Homo sapiens: one gene and its partners. The protein of the gene in region 4 interacts with the protein of the main gene of each other region in a pairwise test. Each region holds a gene or a part of one and is shown on either strand. Other genes may lie near its edges.

The links.
Region 1: the proteins of UBASH3A (region 4) and N4BP3 interact in binary tests that used the Homo sapiens proteins (3 or more experiments, as listed by UniProt).
Region 2: the proteins of UBASH3A (region 4) and SOS1 interact in binary tests that used the Homo sapiens proteins (3 or more experiments, as listed by UniProt).
Region 3: the proteins of UBASH3A (region 4) and PMEPA1 interact in binary tests that used the Homo sapiens proteins (3 or more experiments, as listed by UniProt).
Region 5: the proteins of UBASH3A (region 4) and KRT14 interact in binary tests that used the Homo sapiens proteins (3 or more experiments, as listed by UniProt).
Region 6: the proteins of UBASH3A (region 4) and TIMM44 interact in binary tests that used the Homo sapiens proteins (3 or more experiments, as listed by UniProt).
Region 7: the proteins of UBASH3A (region 4) and KIAA0408 interact in binary tests that used the Homo sapiens proteins (3 or more experiments, as listed by UniProt).

Annotation. Positions count from the first base shown.
Region 1 is NC_000005.10:178,123,532-178,126,581, reverse strand, and holds the end of N4BP3 (NEDD4-binding protein 3), read right to left. Parts: 3' UTR 501-3,050; downstream 1-500.
Region 2 is NC_000002.12:38,981,049-38,985,051, reverse strand, and holds the end of SOS1 (son of sevenless homolog 1), read left to right. Parts: 3' UTR 1-3,503; downstream 3,504-4,003.
Region 3 is NC_000020.11:57,661,516-57,665,015, forward strand, and holds part of PMEPA1 (protein TMEPAI), read right to left. Parts: intron 1-3,500. UniProt on the Homo sapiens protein: Functions as a negative regulator of TGF-beta signaling and thereby probably plays a role in cell proliferation, differentiation, apoptosis, motility, extracellular matrix production and immunosuppression.
Region 4 is NC_000021.9:42,413,902-42,417,401, forward strand, and holds part of UBASH3A (ubiquitin-associated and SH3 domain-containing protein A), read left to right. Parts: exon of another isoform or gene 1-2,407; intron 2,408-2,540; coding exon 2,541-2,710; intron 2,711-3,500. UniProt on the Homo sapiens protein: Interferes with CBL-mediated down-regulation and degradation of receptor-type tyrosine kinases. Promotes accumulation of activated target receptors, such as T-cell receptors, EGFR and PDGFRB, on the cell surface.
Region 5 is NC_000017.11:41,584,096-41,588,206, forward strand, and holds the start of KRT14 (keratin, type I cytoskeletal 14), read right to left. Parts: upstream 2,801-4,111; 5' UTR 2,740-2,800; coding exon 2,215-2,739; intron 963-2,214; coding exon 880-962; intron 319-879; coding exon 162-318; intron 1-161. UniProt on the Homo sapiens protein: The nonhelical tail domain is involved in promoting KRT5-KRT14 filaments to self-organize into large bundles and enhances the mechanical properties involved in resilience of keratin intermediate filaments in vitro.
Region 6 is NC_000019.10:7,937,167-7,940,666, forward strand, and holds part of TIMM44 (mitochondrial import inner membrane translocase subunit TIM44), read right to left. Parts: intron 1,032-3,500; coding exon 861-1,031; intron 1-860. UniProt on the Homo sapiens protein: Essential component of the PAM complex, a complex required for the translocation of transit peptide-containing proteins from the inner membrane into the mitochondrial matrix in an ATP-dependent manner.
Region 7 is NC_000006.12:127,452,890-127,456,389, reverse strand, and holds part of KIAA0408 (uncharacterized protein KIAA0408), read left to right. Parts: intron 1-2,288; 5' UTR 2,289-2,408; coding exon 2,409-2,543; intron 2,544-3,500.

The DNA of each region.
Region 1 (3,050 bases), on a different chromosome or scaffold from region 4:
TTCAGCCTCCCACAGCTTCATACTTTGGGGTATCATTTTCTGAGCCCCACCACCAATTTCCTAGGATAGGATTTTTAAAATTTAACTCAATAAATGCAGGGGTGGGCCAAGCGCCGTGGCCCACGCCCATAATCCGAGCACTTTGGGAGGCTGAGGCGGGTGGATCACGAGGTTAGGAGATCGAGACCATCCTGGCTAACATGGTGAAATCCTGTCTGTACTAAAAATACAAAAAATTAGCCAGGCGTCGTGGCAGGCGCCTGTAGTCTCAGCTACTCAGGAGGCTGAGGCAGAAGAACTGCTTGAACTCGGGAGGCGGAGGTTGCAGTGAGCTGAGGTCACGCCACTGCACTCCTGGGCAACACAGTGAGACTCCATCTCAAAAAAATAAATAAAATAAAATAATAAAATAAATGCAGGGGTGGCACATAGTATGACTTTTTTCCCAAATTTTTATCCAGTTATCCCAGCACCGCTTGTTAAAGCATCCTTCCTTACCCTTATTTTGAAGTCCTTTATTGTGTAAGATTTTCTACAGAATAGAATCTATTTCTGGCTCTTCATTCTTTCCATGAGGTGTAGATTATTTTTACACCAATGTCGTATTTTTCTTGCTACTTTGTAATATGTTCTAATATTACATATTAGAGCAAAGGAATTAAATACCGCTCACAAAAAAGGAAAGAGAAAAAACCCCATACGGTTATTGTGAAAGCAGATCAGTGGTTGCCAGGGGCTGGGGTGGGGCGGGGGGTGGACTAGAGGGCCACAGGAGAATGCTGGGGGGGTGACAGAACTGTATCTTCATTGTTGGGTTCGTTACATAACTCTGCATTTGCCAAAACTCTAAGTAAGCCCAAAGCAAAATGAAACCATGAGACCCACCTCCTGGACGGATGAGTGAGCCAGCTGGGAACTCCCATGGCCCTCCAGCCTCTCCTCTCGTGACATAATCACTTTTGTTTTTGTTGCAAGAAGCATCATTCTTTTTCTTTTCTGAATCCAATATGGATGCCTAAGCCCCCACCTGCCAAGGGGGATGGGTTATCAATATCTGAACCGTCACTGCAGGGCCTGCGCCCTCTTTGCAGAAACCTCAACACTTACATTCCGTGAGTCTCAGAGAAATGTACCCAGCCCCACAGATAGGCTTCCTCTGCCTGCTCCATGCTCTGCTGACCCATGCCACCATGGAGGCCCCTCTGTTGTCCCTAGTTCTGTCTGAACACTTCTGGATTCTCTTCTGTTCTCTTTTCCGCCTGCCTGGCCCCAGTCACTATTTGGAGCGGCCTTCACTACCTCTGACATGTGTGGTCTCCCTCCCCCACCCACAGGTAAGCCCTATCAGGGCAGGGGACCGAGGGCCTTGGCCACCTTGGCTTCCTCACCTGAGAAGGCCCCAAATACATCACTGGAACGAATGGCAGCTGCCCCTGGAGTCCCTGTGCTTGGCACAGACCTGGTGCCCACGGATGGTGAACGAACATTCAGAGTAAGTCTTCCCCATCCACCCCACCCCAAGCTCAAACCCATTCTAGTATTGGGGGGTCTCTGGTTGCTCCTGACTCCACATCCCACCAGTGCCTTCTGGAGCTGTGGTGAAGACACCACCCTACCCCGGCAATGCCCACAGCTCAAAGGAGACAGGCAAACCAACAATTACAGCAGCACAGAAAGAGCTGACGGAGATTGGCATGGGGGCTGTGGGCGCAGGGAGGAGGGAGTGCCCAGGCAGGGGAGGCGGTGAGTTCAGGGCAGGTTTCTCAGAGCACTGAGGGGCTCTGCCTGCAGGATGAGGGCTCAGAGGGCTACAAGGGCTTGCCAAGGTAAGGAGGAGGCACCACTATCAGTGACTCGAGGCCACTAGTGTGTCAGAAGCCTGAAGGGATGGACCAAGAGGCCCAGGGAGCTGCTGGAAGGGATGACACTGAGTGAAGGACTGGAGGCCCCAGAGGCAGGGAGCCCAGCACCAGGAGGCTGCCACCTTCCGCAGAGCAGGCTGCCCGGACCAAGCCTGTTGGGGAGGGGCTGCAGGGAAGGCTAAGCCAGGGCAGCTGGGAAGCTGAGGCCCCGCCAGCTGGAGGGAGGGGCTGCCCTGAGGTGGTAGCCACTACGGTGACACCTGTGATCAGTGACACCTGTGGTCGGTTGGCCCCAGAGCCACCCAGCCGGCTGGGGGACCCAGGAACTGGTTTGTCCAGCCTGGATGAGCTGACGGGGATCCAGCTCCGAGACGCCCCAGGCTCAGGTTCAGCTCTCGTGCCCTCCCCCTACATCTGGGCCTGGCTTTGGTTTCTGGCACAGCTGCCAAGTTTTGGTGCCTCCCACCCACTCCCCACTGGCTGTACTGGCCAGCCCAGCTCCCTAATCGCTGGGTGGGGAACTGTTCTGCCGAGCTGGTATACCAAGGTGGACCCTGGCACCAGGTGTGTGGGCCCCTGGCTTGACAGGCCCCTGGCCATGGAGGCTGTGATCAAGGCATCTGGCCAGCACCTGGCTCTGAGGGGCCCTCTGGAGGAGCCATTGTCCCAGAGATTTCCGTTTGGGGTTTGGGGTTTGGAGGAGTTTGTGAAATGGGAATGGGTACCAAGGGGGTGTGTAGACGACTGGCCTGCCTGACCTGGCCACTCCCCCTTTCCCTCCTCAGGCAGACAGGAGCTCAGGTGTGGGCCTGTATGGGTCTCAGATAGGCCTAGGGGATCTGTCTGGGACACAGGCTCCACCCAAGCCTGGCCAGTGCCAAGACAGACTGGGGCTGACAGGAAGGAATGGGGTAGAGGGTGGGGCCAAGAAGGGGCCTGCACTGTCTCCAACCCAGACACTGGCTTTTGGAGGCCAGGCTCCCAAACACACCCCCTCAGACACACCCACCACCCACAAGCACATCTTTACACACACCTGCCACTTACATGGCCATAAACACACCATCCCCACAGCAGACAGTGCACACGCCTCATTCTCTGCCCTGAAAAAGGGGGCCCCCCCAGCTCATGCCTCACACCCGTCCCCTGACATCCATGTGCACTAACTCCACTTCACAACCAGGACCC
Region 2 (4,003 bases), on a different chromosome or scaffold from region 4:
TCAACTATTCTATTTGCATTTAGGAGACTGTTCATCTATGCTAGATTGTCATTTTCCCTCCTTCTCCCACAGAAGTTTACTGGTAGTCCATGTCATGGCTCGTAGCTATCCCTCTAACCATACCATGGAAATGCAGGCACCCAATGTGAAAAGGAGCACTTGCTGGGCATCACTGACACCGCTCATGTTTTACACATAGTTGAGTAATCAGCATATCTAGAATTATCTTGCATTGCCTAAATCATATGTATATAGTGAATGTTATATAATATACCTGGCAGGTCTGTTTTAATTTAATTGAATAAAGATACAAATACTTTGTTTGGCTGGCATATATTAAATTATTATATGAAGAAAATGGTTGATTCTTATTTCTTTTAGTTGAAAAACACACAAAAACACTAAACATAAAAGCACGTTTTGTGGTACGCCTTGGTTTCTAGTTCTGGATATATGTATTAATCTTAAAGAATGATCTAAAGTCACAGCTTGGCATATAGGAAGATACTTGGTTAGAATAGGATGGGTATCTTTTAAGCAGAACTTTGTAAGTAAGTTTTAAGTTCCTAAGCAACAAGTATACAGTTTGTTAAGGTTTATATTGAACATTCTACCTTGCTTGAGGTTTTCTGCTTTATCAAAACTATTCATAATAGAACATCTACCTGCATCATTACTATCATAATATGGATTATTCATAAAGCGTATGTACTGTTCTTCTGAGTCTAACAAATACTGTGACTGAAATGCATGCACCTTGTTGAAGAGAAAACATTTTATTAATCTCCACTATAATGTCTGTGAAATGTGCAGTATTCCATCCTTAGAGAGTTTATCTGGTTCATCAGCATCTGCATGTATCCTCTGAATAATGAAGCAACATTTCAGCAATTCTGTTAACCACACCATTAGAGACATTTTTAGAAGTGCTGCAACATGGTGGGAACCTAGTACTTTAATAATTTCCTATGATATTTATTAGAGCATAAAATGTACATCACGATAGTACAGTATGTAGTCCTTTAAGACCAGAAGGTATGTTAACTGCACCATCATTAAGCAGTCTATCCTATTTTCTTATTTATTTGTTAGAATTGAATCCTTTCTCAATATCTGTACCATTCCTATGATGGTAGCCATTCTTCTCTTTATAAAATATTTCCTCTTTGAAAAGCGTCCTAAAACATTAATTTCAAATCCCCTCTTGGATGCAAAGTGTCCCTAAGACCATCCATTCAACAGTATTTATGTGAGCCAACTTACTAGAGCCGCTACAACTAATCATGATAGACAGTCCAGAATCTCCCTGGACTTTATACTGGGCCAGCCTCATTGTCCCTAAGATTTCTCTTTTTATGTCTCATGGATTACTTCTCTTTTTAATTGCCCCAGGCACATTCCAAATGAGAACCTGGTAAAAGTCACATTGGACCCCCTTCAGTATGTCTTCGGCTAATGTGTTAGCCTTCAATAAGGTGATAACCCCTTTTCAACCTATCTAGTCTATAAAGAGGAAAAATTCAGATTTGGAGTTCTAATCCTATTTCTCCCAAAGGGAACTATTCTTCTACCCCATGGTTCTAGGAGACCACTTCACTGTGCAACAGTTTTACATGCATTGTGGATGGAGGATATTTTTATTCTGAACTGTTACATTTAGGTAAAAATATTTTCTGCAGTGGTAACTGATTAGAAAAATGCCAATTGGATGCCCTTAGGTGGAGGTGAGAAAATGGCATCCTTGCCTTCTTCTCAATATGAAACATTAACTAGTTGACAAATTTATCCTTGTAGTAATGAAAATCTATTTAATCAGGGACCAGAAATGGCTGAGGAGATAAATGCATCATTACAAAATTCTGCTTTTGAATCCTGGACATTACAAGGGGGTAAATGCAGCATGACTTTTTGTTAACCACATTCCAAAATGTGGAACATTTCTTTTAGAAATGAAAATATTTCAAGGCTGATGTATTTTAAGACTACACATTATCAGGAAACATACATTGAGAGTTCGCTTAATTAAAGGTTGTTGGGCATCAAATTATGTTTAGTAGGTTACTATTCTCTAACAACTCAAGGATGCTTTAATGGATCTGAATTTGACAAAGAGCATGCCACACTAATACTACAGTCAACAACAGCCCAGAGAACAATTACTATGTCAGCTGGAGGCTATATTATGATTCTAAATTCTTAAAGGTTTTTTTCCCTCCATAAATCAAAAATTACCTTATGTAAACCAAAAATTAGTTGGTATTTATGGTCATGATCTTAATTCTCAAGTTTAGCTTAATCTTGTATTTCATTGTTTGTCTTCTAATATGACAGCTTAAATTCAGATTTTTAAGTGACTCAGCAAAATAGGAGGAGTGTCCCAATTTATTAGTGTTGTACATATTGAAGAAAACCTTTTTGTTCCTTCAGATTTAGAAAGAAACAGTTTAACCATTTATTTCTTGGTATTCTGCTGCTGTGAATAGGTTTACTTATTCTTTTAACATATATTGTGTGACTACGCAAGTATAGGTCCTGTTGTATTGCATTAATCTTTACCAGTAACTAAACATCACAAGGTTAATATTGGTTTGGCTGAAAGAATTATGCAGTAAAGTTATTTATAAGGGAACATGATGACTTTATTCAATATTTTTCTTCTTTGAAACATCTCATTACTAACTTTTAAGATTATTTCATAATCCCTTATACATGAGCCAATGAAATATTTTGAGCTCTACTTAAGAAGCATGAAGTCTATATTATAAATCTAAACAACAAAAGCACTTGTAACTTGTTTAGTAAATTCCATGCCTTATTTTCCATTTTTGACACCGTAAAGTGCATTTTCTGTCGACTGTGAGCAAATTTCCCTTTTGCCTTTAATGAAAATAGTGCATTAAGTAGCCAATTGCTGCAGAATTATAAAGCAAATTAGCTAACAGTGGGTCACATTGGACTACCACTCAAAGAAACAAGATGCATAACAGATGATGGAAGGTACATGTGGTGTGGCTTAGGGAGAGCGCACCTGTGCCAGATGCATGCCACTTTCAGTAGCTGCCAAATGTGCCTTTAATTAAGAACATCTCTAATTTTTTTCTTCAGATCAAGTCAGCATTTGGGGTCGGGATTTGGGCAGGGAACTTTGGGGTGCAAATATCTGGTGAAACCACCAGAGAATTTGTTTGTCAAAGTGACATGTATAATTTTAGTTGAGACGTGTTTGTGTATATATGTGTATTTGCCTTTGTTTAGTAGCACGGTTATTTGCTAAAATAATTGTCAAAAAATTGCTCTGTCGGTCGGTCTTTGATGTAAGAACAAAGTGTGGTCTATACATCTAATATGGCCTTTGTACCTAACCATGTTCATAGGTAATCTTTGTACTCTGTGTGCAGCAGTATTTGGTTTGCATTTAAAGTGAAAATAACGGCTGTTATTTTTCTGGCATTACTAAGATAAACTGAAAAATAATAAAGAAAAATGCCTTACATAGCCCACAAGTGTATTATTTTTGCATGTATTTATTTTAGAGGGCAGTATTTTTGAAATCATTAGTGATTCTCATTTAGCTCATATATGCCATATAGAAATATTTTGCATTTTTATTGTGGTCTTTCTTTGGAGGCACTTTTTTCCTGTATCAAGTTATAAAAGGATAAAAGAAGTTCCACATTTCCTCTGTGTCAAATCTGCTGATTGATTGTAGTGAGTGGGAGGCCTCTGGGATGAAAACTAGTAATTTAAAGTGACCTTGAGTGTCACCTGGATGAAGTTTCAGAGTGCTAAGGCATTTGTATTCCATAAAAGAAGTTTTGAGATATCACGTTCCCTGACAGGCAGCTTTTGCTGAGATCTGCTGGAATGAGGTAGCCTGACCTTTAGCAATTCTTTTTCTAGGCTTGGCATGAAAATGTGAGTTTAGGGTTGTAACTAAAGAATGATGCAAATGTACCGTCATTCAGTGTGAACTATAGGATGTAAAAATTGATGAATCCTTAGA
Region 3 (3,500 bases), on a different chromosome or scaffold from region 4:
TTAGCCAGGCTCCCTGGGGGCCCCAGTTCAAGCCCAGTGCCACTGACTCAGTTCCTCCTCCTCCCAGGACCGAGGAACCAAAGCCGGGGGAGGGGGATCGGGGTGGGCAGGTGTCAGGTGGCAACTGGAGAAAAAACAGGCCGTGCAGAGCCGATGCCAGGCGCTCGGGCCATCAGACAGCCCAGGCAAGCACACTCCAAACCCGGGGGGCCCAGCCATCTCCTGCCACCAGCCTCGCTCTCCCCAAGGCAGGAAAGCAGCCCATCCTAGGTGGGAATGTCACTGTCTGTGAAGTGGCAGACGCCTCTCCACACAGAAGCACTCCCACACCTGTGTCCACTGCCACTCCTTCTTCCCCAACAGGTTTTCCAGAACTTCCCCGTCTCGGGCACTTTATGCATCTGTGCCACCCTCAGCGCGCCATTGTCTACACTGCTACTGAGCCAGTGTTTCTCAGCTGGGGCCGCGTCTGCACCCAGGGCTCAGCGTGCCACTGTCTACACTGCTACTGAGCCCGTGTTTCTCAGCTGGGGCCGCATCTGCACCCAGGGCTCAGCGCGCCATTGTCTACACTGCTAATGAGCCAGTGTTTCTCAGCTGGGGCCACGTCTGCACCCAGGGAACATGTGGCGATGTCTGGAGCCATTTTTGGTTGTCACAACTGGGGGGTACTCCTGGCATGGAGTGGGTGGAGGCCAGGGGCTGTGGTAACCGTCCTGCACCGACAGGACTGTCCCCCATGACAAAGAATGATCCAATCCAGTCGGTCATGCTGTGGGCTGAGCACACCTAAGAACGGGCGTTTTTATTATCATCCCCATTTCACGGGTGAGGAGACACGGGCTCAGAGGGAAAAGTGATTGCCTCGAGAAGTCCAAGACCCTAGAGCTGGCGCGTCCTCCCACTAGGCTTGGTGGGGCTTTCCCAAGCCCCGAGAAGGCTTCGGCCCTGCCTGCTGGGAACTCAGGCCCCAAGCCCTGGGCCGCCTGTGGGACACCCGCATGTTCCTGGCCAGGAGAGATCAGGCTTCAGACCCAGGTCGCTGTGGCCACACCTCCTGTCTCCCCAGACAGGCAGGTCCAGGGCCGGGGCAGCCTGGCCTGATTCTGTAGGGCCCAGGTCCGTCTGTTAGCACTCAGGATAAAGCCGCATTCAGGGTACACACAGGGCTGGCTTTGTGTAACACCCACGCCCCCCCACCCCCGGGGCCTGCAATTCCCTGCCCCCCAACCCTGTGCACTCTTCACCCCAGTTCCCCCTTCCCCAGCTGTCTCCAGGGGCCCAGCCCACATCAGCCCTGGAGGGAGGGAGGTGTGTGGCTGTTTTTGTCCCTGTCCCGGGCCCTGGCAGCCCGCAGGACCCAGACAGCAGTGAGACGGTAGCTGGGGCTGCAGGGCCGGTGGGATGCAGGGGCAATGGAGGAGGCCCCTGCAGACTGAATGGGTGTGGACAAACCCTCACGGCTCTCCTGGCCCCGCCAGGCTCGGCCCCAGGGGCAGGGGGATCTGACTTTTGGACGTCTGTATCCACAGAGTGAGAAAAACGCTCCCAGAAATGAGCACCGGGCTCAGTAGCGCATAAGAGCGTCACCCTGGTCCCTGGGCCACCAACTCCCATTGGGTCACTGGCCCAGGAAAATTCACATGGGAGAGGAGAGAGAAAAACTCTCTAGAAAAGAGAAACTACAACTGACTGCTGGCTAGACTTGGTGAGCCAAGGGCCTGGGTCCAGGCTTAGGGAGATGGAGATTTGCAAGGGTTGCCGAGACTACGGCTCAGGAGCACCCTGGAGAGGAGCAGGGTGGTGGCAGGGAAGCACAGTGGCTCTCTCAGAGGGCCCGGGTCCCAGCCTGGCTCTTGGGGGCCCTCTCTGAGTCCATCGCAGTCTCCCTGTGTCAGCGGGGGGACGGTGGGCAGCAGGGGGACAGTGGGCAGCAGGATGTGCGGGGGACATGTGCTCAGCATGTAGTGCTCCCTGGAGGTGGACCCAGACACGGGATGCTCAATTCCATCCTGGCTCCACCAGAACAAGGGTGGCCCAAACCCATCCACCCTCAAAGAGACATGACCTGCTCTGGAATCGCAGAGGGAGCATCTAATGGAAGACCCTGGAGGGCTCCCTGTAAGGTGGGCACTGAGGCTTTTGGTGCAGGGCACGGAGTGCGGGGCAGAGTGGAGCACAGGCAGAGGGTATAGGTGAGCAGAGGCCGGAACCCAGACCCTCCTGGATGCCCCTGGACATGCCCAGACCTGGAGGTGTTGAGGGGGGCAAGAGAGGTGCTCCAGCCAGCAGCCGGGTCACCCCCACCCATCAGGAAGGCAACACCCTGGGCCAAGGAGGCCCCGAAATCTCCATCCAGCTCCAGTCAAGCCCCACCGGCGCGGATGCTGTGCGGGAGGAAGGCTGGTCAGGCACAGCAGCATTGGGGCCCACAAACAGGTCCAACGAAGACCACCCTTGGGCATGGGGTGAGGAGGCACCTTCCACGCACTTTCACACCCATGGTGCTGCTTCCAGGAGACGCTCAGCTTTAGGGGACAGGAATGCATTCTCTGGGGAGTGGACCATGCAGTGCCTGCTGGCGAGGTCGGTCGCAAACCAGAGACCCAAGGGCACGCGCACCGACCGTCCCTGGCCCCAGCCGTGTTCCCACCTGGCATCACGGGAGCAGGGCTGTGGGCAGCCACCCTCTCCACAGGCCTGGTCCCGGGACTCACCTGGCCTGGGACAGCCACGCCCTGACACTGTCGGTCCCCACCCCACACCACCCCAGGGATGCCTGAGACTCAGCATGCGGGCCTCTACGACGCACTGATCAGGGCCCACTCAGGCCGAGTTCATCAAGCATGGGCTCCCTCCCCACACTAAGTCCCACACATCCCTCTGGGCAGGCACCGTGAATCCACCAGCAAAGACCCCTTGGGGGAGAGAAAGGTGCCTCCCCGCAAAGGCCTTGGAGTCAAGTTCAAAACATGATGTGTGTATGAAGCGGCACCAATATAAACACGGCTCTCCACCCGCGGCAGCTCGCAGAATCCTCTTCGTGCCTGCATTTGTTCCGAGGAGCGCAGGGAGGCTGCTGGGGCCCATTCCCAGTCGCAGCTTGAGAGCCGGACTCTCAGGATCAGATGCCTCGCGGGCAAGGGAAGGAACCCCAGCAGGACTGCCAACGCGAGGCGGAAGGAGAGAAGGCCCAGCGCGGCCGCATCCCTCCCTCTCTCCAGAGGACCCTGGAGCCGGCTGTGAAGCTGTGGTCCTTTAAGGCTGGAACCTCATTTAAGAGTTTTAAAAGGGCCAAGCAGGCCACACCCAAGGCATCTGCAGGGCAGGCGGCTTCAGGACTTCTGGCCAAGAGTTGGGCCCCAGGTCACTTAGTGACTACTGGCAGATATGGAGCCACACCAATCCTGCCTCAGTTTCCCTAATCTGACAGACTGCCCCTTTACCAAGGCATGGACAAAGACATCCCAGATCAAATGCCCAGTATGACACCTGCAGGG
Region 4 (3,500 bases):
TACCATTGGGGTTTAGTGGAAAGGATTGTGGACTTGACGTCAGAAGATGTGATTTTTTTCTGTGTCCCTGATGAGTGGCATGACCTTAATCAAGTCATGTCCACTCTCTCTGTCTCTTTTTCTTTCTCTACAAAACAATGAGGGCTCTCACTCTTCAAGAACAATGTTGCCTGAGTCTGTGGCCCATCCTGCCATAGTTCCCGGGACACAGAAGGCACTCAGTATTGCTGAGATTTGCCGACTCTAAAATCTGACGAGGCCGCAGTGCCTTGGTGGGAGGGCTCCCCACTTTCTCTCTCTGGGAGCGTGTCTGTCTGTGCTCAGACATGTATGAAGCACAGATCCTGGCCTGTAAATCCATCCCTGAATCCTGGGCTTCCACTTGGATGGCAGCTTGTGAGTCTGGAGATCGAATCTGCTGAATAATTAGAAAGTCGCCCCCGGTCTTTGTGGATTAGTATCCTTTATCAAATGATGGCTCTTTCACACCCAGGCCCTCCCCCAGTGAACCTCATTGGCAGCATCTTAAAAACAGGAAGACTGAGGCTGCAAAGGGTGAAGGGCCTGCCCAAGGTCCTGTGGTGTGTAGAGCGGTGTCCCCTAAAAATGTTTGTCCACCAGGAACTTGGGAATGTGACCTCACTTGGGAATAGGGCCTGTGCAGATGCGATTGGTTGGGAGGAGGTCACACTGCATTAGGGTGGGTTCCCGTAAGGGTAGAGGCCGCACAGAGACACAGAGAAGCCATGTGCCGACTGAGGCAGAGACTGGAGTGATGTAGCCACAAGCCAAGGGACGCCTGGGGCCACCGGAAACTGGAAGAAGCCAGGAAGGACCCTTCCCAGGAGCTTTCGGGGAGAGCACAGCCCTGCCAACACCTTGATTTTGAACCTCTAGTCTCCAGAAATGGGAGGCAATACATTTCTGTTGTTTGAAACCAATCTAGTCCCCTAACCAGGCTGGCGGAGCAGGGACCTGAACCCACCTCTGTCCTGCTCCATGCTGCCTGGGTTCATGCTGGGCAGCCCCACTTCCTGTGGGAGCCAGCGTTGACCTCACATCTACGCCCCGACCCTAAGCAGGCTGTGTCCTGCCCTTCCATGGCCCATGCTCTCAGCCTGACACCGAGGGGGTGGAGGGGACTCTCTCAGTGATGAGTGACCAGTCACTGCTCTGAAGTGGCCGAGGTCCCTCTTGGGGCAAATGCATGAGGCCCCCTTGCCCGCGTTGGTCCTCCCCAGTGAAACGTGCCCATAGGCACAGGTCCGCAGAGAGAAGGAAACGCAAGGACCCGTTCAGAAGTCGGTGTGACTCACTCTGACGTCAGCAACCTGCAGTGGGTCTTTCCCAGGCCACACTCACTCGCATGGCAAGGCGGTCCTCCCCGACTGCTAAAAACAAAAGTCAGGAAAGGAATTTCCCCACCACCTACACACTCATGCTGCTCCCCACCACCTACACACTCATGCTGCTCTGGGCTGTGCAGCCTCAGTGCCCCAGCTTTCCTAGAGACCGTGGGAGCTTCCCATTTGCCTCTAAAGGCTCACCTCTCACGTGGGAGACAGCAGTGAGCCCCAACTTCGGGGCTCCAGGGAAAGGCTTGCATCAACCTTGACCTTTTTTAGGGGGTGAGCAGATCCTGTTTGTAAGTGCCCTGCCGTGGAGTGGGGGCAGGGTACGTCTGTGCACCGACACGGCGTCTCTAGCAGGAAACTTTAGGTTAGGAGGCTGATTTCCCACTGCAGCCTTGGCGAGCAGGCGCTGCCGTCCTCCAGCAGATGCTGCTGAAGCAGAAATTGGGCAGGCCCAGAGGCTCAGTCAAGGTCACCCTGCAAAAGGGGGCAAAGTGCAGCCTAAAACTAGGTCTATCTGACACCAAAGTTTGTGTTGTTCCCGTCAAGACACAGACCGCCTCCCTAGGACATAAAATACTTTGTGGCTCAACTGAAATCAGATCCTGGCTGCTTTGGTGATGCCAGCTGCTCTGCTCAGACTGACCTGAGAGCCCCTGGCAGGACCAGGGAGGGCTAGGGCCACAGGGGCAGAGGACACCCAAAAAGACCTGAGGCTCAACCACTCCCAGGACTTCCTGCTTCACCAAAACAAGGTGAACCTTAAAGACACTGTGTGTTTTATAGTTTTGTTGCCTAAAGAGTTTTCTTCTTGAAACTCTACGATTAAACAAAAAGCCGTTGAACTGGAGCTCGGGCCTGCAAGTCCAGGCCACTGGGTAACGTGCACACCCCGGGGAATGGAGGAGCCGTTTACTCTGTGCATCTGAATCGTGCATTCGGGCAGCTAGCCTGCAAACCGATAGGCCCCCGAGACCCTGAACCCACATCTCCATATCGTCCTCTTTCCTACTTCCTGGAAAAATCTACAGGGATCCAGCCATCTCCTTTATGATGTGAGTTCTGAGCGGGCCAAATGAGCTCTGAGTTCTGAGAGCCCTTGCCTTGTGGAGGAAGCATGGAGGTCGGAGGAAGGAGACATTTAGGTAACGGTGTCCTGGCACCCTCTGTGTTTCCCTGATTTCACAGACTGCTCCGTGAAGCCTTGCACCAAACAGCTGCATCTGACCTTGGCCCACAAGTTCTACCCCCACCACCAGAGGACGCTGGAGCAGCTGGCCAGAGCCATCCCCCTGGGCCACAGCTGCCAGTGGACCGCAGCACTCTACTCCCGAGACATGCGCTTTGTGCACTACCAGGTGAGAGAGCTGAGCAGGGGCTCATAAGAAGCAGATGAATGGGCTGGGCTCGGTGGCTCACGCCTGTAATCCCAGCACTTTGGGAGGCCGAGGCGGCGGATCATGAGGTCAGGAGATGGAGACCATCCTGGCTAACATGGTGAAACCTCGTCTCTACTAAAAATACAAAAAATTAGCCAGGCACGGCGGCGGGCACCTGTAGTCCCAGCTACTCAGGAGGCTGAGGCAGGAGAATGGAGTGAACCCGGGAGGCGGAGCTTGCAGCGAGTGGAGGTAGCATCACTGCACTCCAGCCTGGGCTACAGAGCGAGACGTCTCAAAAAAAGAAGCAGATGAGTGAACGGCCACTCACCTGACAGCATGTACCCCCTGGAGCCCTCCAAGGGAGATATGTTAGTAGCAAGGAAAATTTCTATTGCTTCTCTAAAGCCATTCTCTTTCTTGTGCAATTTACAACCAGCATTCTTTTATATGTGAGTTAGAGATGCACAGACAACAAAATAGAAGCATTTCCAATATTAGAAAAGGAAGCTGGGTGTGGTGGCTCACACCTATAATCCCAGCACTTTGGGAGGCTGAGGCAGGTGGATCACTTCAGGTCAGGTGTTCGAGACCAGCCTGGGCAACAGGGCAAAACGCTGTCTCTACTAAAAATACAGAAAATTAGCCGGGCGTGATGGCACGAACCTGTAATCCCAGCTACTCGGGAGGCTGAGGCAGAAGAATCACTTGAACCTGGGAGGTGGAGGTTGCAGTGAGCAGAGATCGTACCGTTGCACTCCAGCCTGGG
Region 5 (4,111 bases), on a different chromosome or scaffold from region 4:
TTTGGACAGGGTCTAGCCTTGTTGCCCAGGCTGGACTCAAACTCCTGTGTTCAAGTGATCCTCCTGTCTCAGCCTCCCAAGTAGCTGGGACTATGGGCACGCACCACTGTACCCAGCCTCCCTGCATTTCTTTTAAGCTGACTTTTCCATATAGTTCTCACCTCCTCGTGGTTCTTCTTCAGGTAGGCCAGCTCCTCCTTCAGGCTCTCAATCTGCATCTCCAGGTCAGCTCTGGCCAGGGTCAGTTCGTCCAGCACCCTGCGCAGGCCATTGATGTCGGCTTCCACACTCATGCGCAGGTTCAACTCTGTCTCATACCTGGAATGACCCCAGAGAAAAGGTATGAGACACCCATCCTGATCACAGCGAGGGCTTTGTTCTCTTCTCCCTGCAGCTTCTCCCAGAGCTGGTGCCTTGTGGGTGGTTTAAGGAGCCAATCTTGAAAATGGCGTGGTTGAACACAGTGCCCATTGATTGCTCAGATATGAACATTCCTGCGGGCTGGGGATAAGGCAGTTCATCTTGCTGCAGAAATCAGGAGGGGGTTGCACTTCTAGCTTCAGCCAACAAATAATGCAGAAGTCCTCCAACTATGATTCCTTCCTATACTTCAAGGGCAGCTGGGGAAGTGGAAAGTGCCTCTCCCTAAAGCAGCGGTTCTGAAACCTGGCTGTGGACCAGAATCACCCAGGTAACCTGCTATAAATAGCTGAATCAAAACTCCAAGGGTGGGGCCCAAGAGTCTTATTCTTTTATAAGCACCCCAGGGAGTTTTCATGCACCTATCCTGGTACTGGCTAGTTCTATTTGGGAAACACTGCTCCAAAAATGCCCTACTCTGGGGACACTGGATGTTCTGGCCCACCATTTCAAACTCACTTGGTGCGGAAGTCATCCGCGGCCAGACGGGCATTGTCAATCTGCAGAAGGACATTGGCATTGTCCACTGTGGCTGTGAGAATCTGCAGGATGGAAAAGGCACAGGTAATTTGTCAAATGGACTTCACAAGCTGGACTTCACTGTAGCCTACATTAAGCTCTTGCTTCATGTTCTTGCCTGAATCCCCCTTTTCCCCCACAAAACTTGACCATAGCAGCCCAAAGGAAAACAGATGCCCCAGGCCTGTCCTAAGACTTTGCTAACTCATGGTCAACAGAGGGGGTAGATGCAGCCCCGGGCTTAGAATCGAAAGCCCAGGAGTTCTGGTCCCAATTCTGCCAGTGTCTTGCTGCAAAACCTAATGGGTCTTGGGGCTTCAAGTTCCCCACCTCCAGGTGAGGAGAATAATCTGAGGCTCCCTAGCCCTCCTTCCTGAGCTGACCTCTCTTCTGTCTGCATCAGCCAGCCCTGCCAGTCCTCTGCAGATATGCACATTCCTTTTCAAGCTCACAGGCCATGGGACTTCAAGTGGAACTTTCTCAAGAGATAAAACCCAACTAACACAGGGGATTAGAAAAGAGGACTCAGGGGAAGAATAAGAAGATATATTGGCCCCTGAGTCTGGTTGGATTTCCCCACCTCATCATTGAATTTCCCTAATCCATGCAAGTCATTAGAGCCCAACAGACTCCAGCAGGGAGGGCTCCCAAGTAATGTGGGAGCAGGGAGGAGGGGGCTAGAGTCAGGGCACAAGCCTGCCAGGCTCTCTCTGTGCAGGGCACATCAAGGGACCACACTAATTGTCTCTGCAGGCTCTCCATGCCCGCCTGGCTGTGGGGAGGGACCAGCCTGTACCAAGGCTTATGGGCGGCGGCAGCCACAGCCCAGACTAGTGAGCTAATGAGTGGTTTGGATGTCTTGCCTGGTCCCGTTAGAGCCTCACTCCTCCCCTGTGCTGGAGAACAAGTAGCTGCCTCCTGTGCTGGAAGGTAGGGCACAAGGGCCCCAGCCTTGGCTCTGCCATTAATTTGCTATGTGACCTGCAGCTGGTCACAGCACCTCTCGAAGCTTCAACTGCTTCCTCTAAAAAATGTAAGGATAGGAATCACTGATCTCACATGGTCTGAGGATTTGAGATCAGAAGGGGATGAGGAGGCTGGGGAAGGGAAAGCATCTTCTCACTGATCAGTCTTAGGGCATCCAAGACCTCGAAAGAAGGGATCTGGGGTGGACTCTGTCCTATAGAGAAATCTTAAGGTCTCAGGGGCCTGGGGCATGAATTGTTCCCAGAAGGAGCTAGCTGGAATGGTGCCTTCTGCTGCCCATTCACCCACCTTGTTCCTCAGGTCCTCAATGGTCTTGAAGTAGGGACTGTAGTCTTTGATCTCAGCAGGCCGCTGCCTCTGGTACCAGTCACGGATCTTCACTTCCAGGTCGGCGTTGGCCTCCTCCAGAGCACGCACCTTGTCCAGGTAGGAGGCCAGGCGGTCATTGAGGTTCTGCATGGTCACCTTCTCACTGCCCACCAGAAGCCCATCACCACCAGCAAAGCCACCACCAAAGCCACCACCCAAGCCAGCACCAAGGCCACCACCATATCCTCCCCCAAAGCCACTACCAAAGCTGCTGCTGCTGCTGCTGAAGCCACCGCCATAGCCGCCCCCCAGCCCGCAGGCTCCCCCAGAGGAGAAGCGGGAGGATGAGACAGACAGGCCGCCCCCGTAGGTGCTGGGGGCGCGGCAGGACCCTCCGGCCAGGACGGAGGAGATGCGGCTGGAGCCGCCCCCGATGCCGCCCCCGATGCCGCAGGAGCCCTTCATGGAGCTGGAGGAGGTGAACTGGCGGCTGCAGGTGGTCATGGTGCAGAGGAGGGAGGTGAGCGAGCGAGCAGTTGGCTGAGTGAAGAGAAGGTGCTCGGGTAAATTGGAAAGGGATGCGAGTGCTTTATACTCGTGGGTAGGGGGCGGGTCTGGCACTTTCCATTCCCCTTGGCTTTCATCACCCACAGGCTAGCGCCAACTCCCAGCCAGGTCCCTCCTCTCATCCGCCTCATCATGTCTGTCATATTTTACTGGAAACTCATTGTTTGGAGTGTTTTGGGCTTTCTTGTCCCGCCAGGCGTGATTCACAGGGGGAGGTGTGGGCCTGCAGGCTACACTTTCCCATCGGACCCTGGGAGTCCCAGCCCTCAGGAACCCGCGCACTGGGCTTAGCCAGGGTGACAGAGAGCAGGGCCTCTGCACCTTAAACCTAGTTACCTGCTAGCTCTCCATGAACTGAATGGGCCTTTAACATCCACGTAGAGGAAGCCTGCTGCTGCAGGGGATGGATACCCGGCTGGAAAGCACCGGCATGGCAAGGTCACCTTGGGCACAGACAGGCCTCCCTCACCATGACCCTCTATTAGAGACAAGGAGGTCTGGGGGGCCCTCCCAGGCCTGACCTCCCATGCTGTGCTGAGAAGTCTGTCCCATCCCTGAAATACACCCAGCTAGTCAGGTGTATCGTGGTTCCCACCCCAACATCCCCATCAAAGAGAAATCCAGGCAGCTCTCCCCAGCCCTGAGCACAGACCCTAATCTCCTCCCTATGGTGAGGATCTCACATCCACCACACCATAGGGCAGGTGGCCTCATGGAGGCCAGGAAACAGCCTGGAGTCAGGTGGGTCCTGGCTCTGCCATTTACGCCTCTGTGACCCAGGGCTTGGCACTTCTCTGAGCCTCAGTGTTCTCATCTGCAAAGTGGGAGTCATACCATCTATTCTGCTTAGTGCAGTCAGCTCTGAGAATCCAATGCGACAATGTATGTGAAAGGGTTTTGTAAACCGAGTATGGCAAGAAGCCTCGTTGGCATTGTTATAGCCCAGGCTTAGCCCCAAAGTGGCTGGAGCTGCATCCAGGAACAGGCCTAGGGGGGCCTTTTATTCTTCCAGCCCCAGATATCTTCTCAGACCCCCAGAACATCCCTAGTGTGGGCAGCTCAGGCGCCCTCGTTTGAGCCCCTTGTGGAACTGGCCCAGGAGATGTTCTGGGGAGGAGTAGAGGCTGGAGTGGAGCTGGGCTGTGCCAAGGGCAAGGCTGAGGTGGACACGAGGGTCCCTGACTCCTGAAGCCCCAAGGGTCAGGGGACATTTCTAGGAGTCCACTTGGTCCTGCTTTGGAGGTGTGTATATCAAAACTTCAGCAATCTCCCAGACAACCTCCCAAAGCAAACCCTTCCGGCCCCCACC
Region 6 (3,500 bases), on a different chromosome or scaffold from region 4:
TATCCGGGAGGCTGAGGCAGGAGAATCAGGAGCTGGAGGTTGCAGTGAGCCAAGGTCACGCCACTGCACTCCAGCCTGGATGACAGAGCAAGACTCCATCTCATAAAATAAAATAAAATAAAATAAAATACCAGCACCATCACCCAGTTTCCACCAGGCTCCACTCAGAGGGCTACAGCTGGGAGCTCTCAGGAGCGCTGCATCCCATAGCTGGTGTGCATGCGTTGCCTGGGGGCCTGTGAAGATGCGGGCGCTGGCCTGGCAGTTTGGGAGGGTGTGAGCCTCTGCACTGCTCATCCACTCCCAGGAGGAGCCACTGCTGCTGGTCTGGGGACCACGCTTCAAGCTGCACAGAACGCTGCATGGTCTCATGGCAGAACCCAGAGGCCTGGAGACCCGCACCTGTCCCCTGGCTCCCTCTCATTAGTGCATCAGAGCAGTGACCTCACTTCCTCACGAGCCACCCTGCCCCCAACCGTCCAGCCCTGAGCTCCTCTGGCTGTCCCTGGCCTGGAGAAACCCTGGCCCTGGAAACAAACATGTCAACCAAGAAAGGTAAGAAGCAAAGGGGCCCAACGCGGTGGCTCACGCCTGTAATCCCAGCACTTTGGAAGGCTGAGGCGGGCGGATCACTTGAGGTCAGGAGTTCGAGACCAGCCTGGCCAACATGGTGAAACCTCTTCACTACTAAAAATACAAAAATTAGCTGGGCGTGGTGGTGCGCGCCTGTAAGCCCAGCTACTCAGGAGGCTGAGGCAGGGGAATCACTTGAACCTGGGAGGTGGAGGTTGCAGTGAGCCGAGATCGCACCACTACTCTCCAGCCTGGGTGAGGGAAAAAAAAGCAGCAAAGAAACTCACGTATTTCCTTCTGGCCTCCTGGAGCACGTCTGATTCTTCTAGCCTTCTGGCCTCGTCACGGAATTTTTTTATACTTTCTTTCATTTCTTTGTTTTTGGCTAATTCTTGTTTGACATTATCTAGCAAGCCGGACAGAAAGCCTTTTCTGTTTCCAGAAGAATATGATTTGGACTAGAAAGAATGTACAAGAAAAAAAATTTAAAGAACATAGTAGAACATAGAATGAAATGCCCCACAGAGGGACTCAGGGATTTTTTTAAATGTTCTCTTTTCGGTTGATATACATTTAATGATGATTAGCTATCTCTTTTATAATAATCATAAAAAACAAAGAAACAGCAGGTGATAAAAGTGTGGTATATCCAGACAACAGAATATTATTCAGTGCTGAAAAAAAAATGAGCTCTCAGCCACTTTAGGAGGCTGAGGAGGGAGGATTGCTTGAGGTCATGAGTTTTAAGACCAACCTGGGCAACACAGCACCCTATTTAAAAAACAGGCTGGGCGCGGTGGTTCACGCCTGTAATCCCAGTACTTTGGGAGGCTGAGGCGGGCAGATCACCTGAGGTCAGGAGTTCGAGACCAGCCTGGCCAAAATGGTGAAACCTCATCTCTACTAAAAATGCAAAAGTTAGCTGCGCATGGTGGTGTGTGCCTTTAGTCCCAGCTCCTCAGAAGGCTGAGGCACAAGAATTGCTTGAACCCAGGAGGAAGAGGCTGCAGTGAGCCAAGATTATGCCACAGCACTCCAGTCTGGGTGACAGAGCGAGACTCCATCTCAAATAAAATAAAATAAAATAATTTAAAAAACAAGCAAGAAATATGCTCTCAAGCTGTGAAAAGACACAGAGGAACCTTAAATGTATATTGCACTAAGTGAAAGAAGCCAATCTGAAAAGGCTACATACTGTCTGATTCCAACTATAGACCGTTCTGGAAAAGGCAAAACTAAGGGGACAGTAAAAGATCAGTGGTTGCCAGGGGTTTGGTAGGAAGAGGGTGAGATGAGTAGGGGGGAACACAGAAAAATGTTAGGGCAGTGAAACTACTCTTATGATACTGTAATCACAGAGAATGTACACCACCAAGAGGGAACCGGAAGGTAAACCATGCATTTATTAATAATAATGTATCAACATCCTGTCAATTGTGACAGATGCTCCACACTAATGCAGGACGTGAAGAATAGAAAACTGTGTGCCAGATGGGAGAGGAGGGGCATGGCAACTCTTTGGACATTCTGTTGGATTTTTCTGTAAACCTAAAACTGCTCAAAAGATAAAGCCTTGTGAAAGCAAAACAAGGCCGGGCGCAGTGGCTCCTGCCTGTAATCTCAGCACTTTGGGAGGCCAAGGTGGGTGGATCACTTGAGGTCAGGAGTTCCAGACCAGCCTGACCAACATAGTGAAACCCCCGTCTCTACTAAAAATACAAAAATTAGCTGGGCGTGGTGGTGGGTGCCTGTAATGCCAGCTACTCAGGAGGCTGAGGCAGGAGAATCACTTGAACCCAGGAGCCGGAGGTTGCAGTGAGCCAAGATTGTGCCACTGCACTCCAGCCTGGGTGATGGAATGAGACTCCATCTCAAAAAAAAAAAAAAAAAAGCAGGCTGGACACAGTGGCTCATATCTGTAATCCTAGCACTTTGGGAGACCGAGGTGGGCGGATCACTTGAGGCCAGGAGTCCGAGACAAGCCTGGCCAACATGGTGAAACCTTGTCTCTACTAAAAATACAAAAATTAGCCAGGTGTGGCGGCGCCTGCCTGTAGTCCCAGCTACTGAGGCAGAGGCAGGAGAACTGCTTGAACTCGGGAGGTGGAGGTTGCAGTGAGCGGTATCTCGCCCCTGCACTCCAGCCTGGGCGACAGAGTGAGACTCTGTTTCAAAAAAACAACAGAGAAACAGTTTAATGAATGATCATACAATAATCCAATCAGGCGGAAGGGGCCGCCTGTGGTCAACTTTTCCACAGCTGTGTTGGGTATACCAGCTCCAGGTGGGATCCCCCTCCCTGGCTCCTGTCAAGCTACAAGAGAAAGCTGCATCCAGCCTGGTGCTCAGGCCCCGTGGAGTCACACACCTGTGGTCCCAGCTACTCAGAAGGCTGAGGTGGGAGGATCGCTTAAGCCCAGGAGTTCAAGGCTGCAGTGAGCCGTGATAGTGCCACTGCACCCCAGCCTGGGCCACAGAGTGAGACCCTATCTTAAAAAAAAAAAAAAGCCCAGTGCTGCTCCCCAGGACAGGTGGCCAGGCCTCCTGTCAGCAGGCTGCAGTCCCATTCAGATGCCACCCTGGCCAGCCTTTCTCCAGGGGAAACCCAGGTTCTAAGTAAAATCATCCAGGACCACACAACCTTATCGCAGCCCTACCAGAGACTCTTGGGCTACAAACCATGGGAGTGAGTGTGTGGCGGGGGACTAGACAAGAAAGGGAAAGAGTCACAGGTCCTGTCCCACACCCACGATGGCCCCAGGACAGGACTGGAGAGGTAGGTAGCTGCCTCCAAGGAGGCAGCTGAGCTGAGGCTCTGGGCGCAGAGAGAGAGGGAGACAGAATGTACGCGCTGCCCGAATGTACAGGTCTGGGGAAGGGAGTCAGGTTTTGGGCTTCTGTCCTCACGATGCTGAGACACCAACAGA
Region 7 (3,500 bases), on a different chromosome or scaffold from region 4:
GCATCTTTCAACAGTAGCATGGAAGCGATTCAAGAAGAGTTAGGAATAGAAGGAAAAATTGGAGCCATTTGCTACATAATTGTAGAAAAGACTTTATGGTGATTTCTGAACATTTCCAATGTTTAAAGACAGTTGGGATAAAACATGGATTTATCATAGCTCCTCTTTTCCAGGTAGCTTGAAATTAGTCTGCATCCTTTTTTAGTTTCTTTGGTTAAATCTGCATTTATCTCTTATTATCTCAAACCACACCATTCTTCCTAAGAAGTTCCAGTGGCAAATACTTTCTAGTCAGCAAGGTAGTTTCACCACACAGTTAATTACGTATAGTTTTAAAGCAGTCTGCTAGTTTCAAGACAGGCACTGTCTGCATTTCCTATGAAGAATTGTTAGACGAACCTAAAAGATTACTAGGTATTCAAGATCAAGATCAATGGAAATTAGATTAGCCAAAACAAACAAAAACCAAAACTCTGTATGTTCTTTACCATCTTTATTTTATTTGTTCTTCACTGACATTTATTATGGCAAGTACTTGTGGTTACTGGTTTATATGTGGGAAAGATAGCAAAGAAAGGGGTGACAGAGGAGGTGGAGAAATGAGGTCAGAAATTGAGCATGGCCAAATGGATAAAATGAGATATGATAGCACCTTTAATAGCCAGATATGAAATTATGTATTTTTCGTGACTGAATTAATCATAATAGTGCTAGTGCCAAAGACATAGGAAAAAATTATCAAAATATCTTTAGTAAATAGTTTGAGAGTAAAGTAACAATATAGATCCCAAAATTATTAGGGTGTTTTGAAGGTAGAACCCTGCATATATAGCTAACATTTTTCATTTCTTATTCTATTCTAATTCATTGATCGTGACTCAAAAAATACAGATTCAAAACTGTTTACTAGTCAGATATGTATGTTCACAACAGTCTGACAAAAATAAAATTAGTGTTCGATATTTAGCTGATATTTAGGATTTGAAATATGCAGTTATCTTCTGTGAATACAAAATTGGCACTTGCTGCTTGGGTATGTGGCCTTAATTCGGCAGTGCCAGCACCCACAAAGCTATTGACTGTTGGGATCTTTGTCCGTAATTAGCATTAGCTGCCACCAGTAAGTTATAGCATTTTGATAATGGCTTAGTGACTGAAGAGTTAGACATCTTATAGGCATAATTATCTTAAACAGAGATTCAAACATTTTAAACATGCTTTTCTACCCCCTAAAAAGGCACATGACTTATTTAATACAAAATTATTTTTAATTGAAGTCACAATGAAATTTTGTAAAGCAAAAAATAGAAAACTTTCTTAAATTTCTCAAACTACTTTGCATTCAGTATGCCATTTAATCTTTTTAACAGTTCTATGACTATCCCCATTTTAATGCAAAAAACTAAATCCCAGAAATTTTAGACTTATACCAGTTACATAGCTGGTATTTTAAATTCTGACTTCAAACCTTAAGTACACGTCCCTGAAGGCTAGAAAGTTAATTATTTCAGTCACTACTTAATGTAATAGAGGATTCCCTGAAAACTGAGCAAAATGTTTTCTTCAGTTCCCTGTATTCAATATCCTAAGCAGTTTATGGTATATAGCCTATTCAAAGGAAAAGAGAGCATGGATAAATTTTAACGTATATTTCACAGGATAGTTTTGATGCTTCTAGATTTTCCTTGATGAAGTGACATAATGAATATATTTTTTATAATTTAGATTAGTTTCTGGATGATACATCAGTCCTAAGTTGACTACCAACTTTGGGGTCTTCATAAGTAACACAGTAATGACATTTGGCACAGGCTTGATCTCTGAATATAGAATTAAGACTGCAAACCAGCTCTGTTTCAGGAATTTAAGTCATAAGAATATATAATCAGGTTGCATCAGAACAGAAAGAATAATTTTATTGCAGCAGAATCTGTCACAGTGTGTAGATGTGAGCATACATTTGAATTGTATACTTACACTCTTATTCATGAAAAAATCTATTTTTAGAGTAAGTGGTTAAAGGGATGATTACATCTCACATGCGCATTTAATCATCTTGTCCACTATAATTTTGCTGTCTGGTCTCAGAAAGGGAAAAAAACTTTGGACAATACTTATTACTTTATTGACTGTGTTAGTTTCTTCTTCTTAAGTAGACTGTTGTCATCTCTTTTCTTTTGAGTCCAATTTTCCTATAGTTTGTTTATGTCAATGGCTCGACAAAATGATAAAATATATTTCCAGAAAGCACATGGATTTGGAACTCTCTCTTGTTATGTTTATATTAGGCTTTATTTTAAAGGCAAGTGAGACTGCTTCAAATAAAACAACTTCAAGCTTCCAAGAAACAGTTAAGAGGAGGCAGAGAAGAGCAGAAACACTTCTTTGCTGACACTTACACTGTTGCCATGGACCTACATAAGCAGTGGGAGAACACAGAGACTAACTGGCATAAGGAAAAGATGGAATTACTGGACCAGTTTGACAATGAAAGAAAGGAATGGGAAAGTCAATGGAAGATTATGCAGAAGAAAATAGAAGAGGTACACTTTAATTTGTTTTGGATATACTGTAATGTTTAAGTGCAGGATGAAAATTCTGTGGGCTGTTTTGTATTGGAAACTGTTTTTGATTTCCTTATTCGACCTAAGAGGTACATTTCTCAGTGACATTTACTAGAACAAAAATAGCATAATCTTATCCAATGGTATTGTAAGGATTATTTTATATCATTGCATGAAAATTAAGCATTTGAAATGTCACTCTATAATGTTTCAACTTATTATTTTCTGGCTAGAGAGCTTTTTTATCAAAAGTGAGGTATGTATTTTGCATGAATTTTCAAATACCAGGTCCAGGAGTAAAATGCAAGAAAGATATACTTGGTGGGACATAGATTAGCAAAATTATAGTTGGGCATTAGAACATAGATCTTTCCTAAGAAGATTTATGAGTAATGTCTATTAAAGGAAATTACATGTTAGATAATGCAGTATAATCAAAAGGAGTATCATATATCAAACAGAAAATGGCAGTAGACATGAGATTTATTCTATCAAGGTGTGCACATTTAGTGGCATATTTATTGGAAAAGGAGTTATGAAAAATGACATATCACGACTCTGACACAGTCATTTTGTTCCCGTTAACCCTCCCTCAGTCCGTTGACCCTGAAATATTTCCTTCAAGCATTTGCATTGATGTATATTCAAGCTTTTGCACCAATTGGAAATAATTTATGCTTATCTTGCTTTCTTTTGGTAACATCCTTAGTATTGACTTTATATGGTTTTATGCACATTACCAAAGTTGTTATTTTAAGACTTCTTGGCCTTTTTTGCAGGCAAAGTAAGTGCTTTATGTGTTTATAGTACAGTCATGTTTCTTATTAACAGCCATGTAATTGACTGTGAATAAAATATGAATTGGCATAGTAGGAAGAAAGCTGAAGAAAAGTAACTATTAAGCCCTTCCTCTAAAATAGAGCTGAGAAGGCAGGC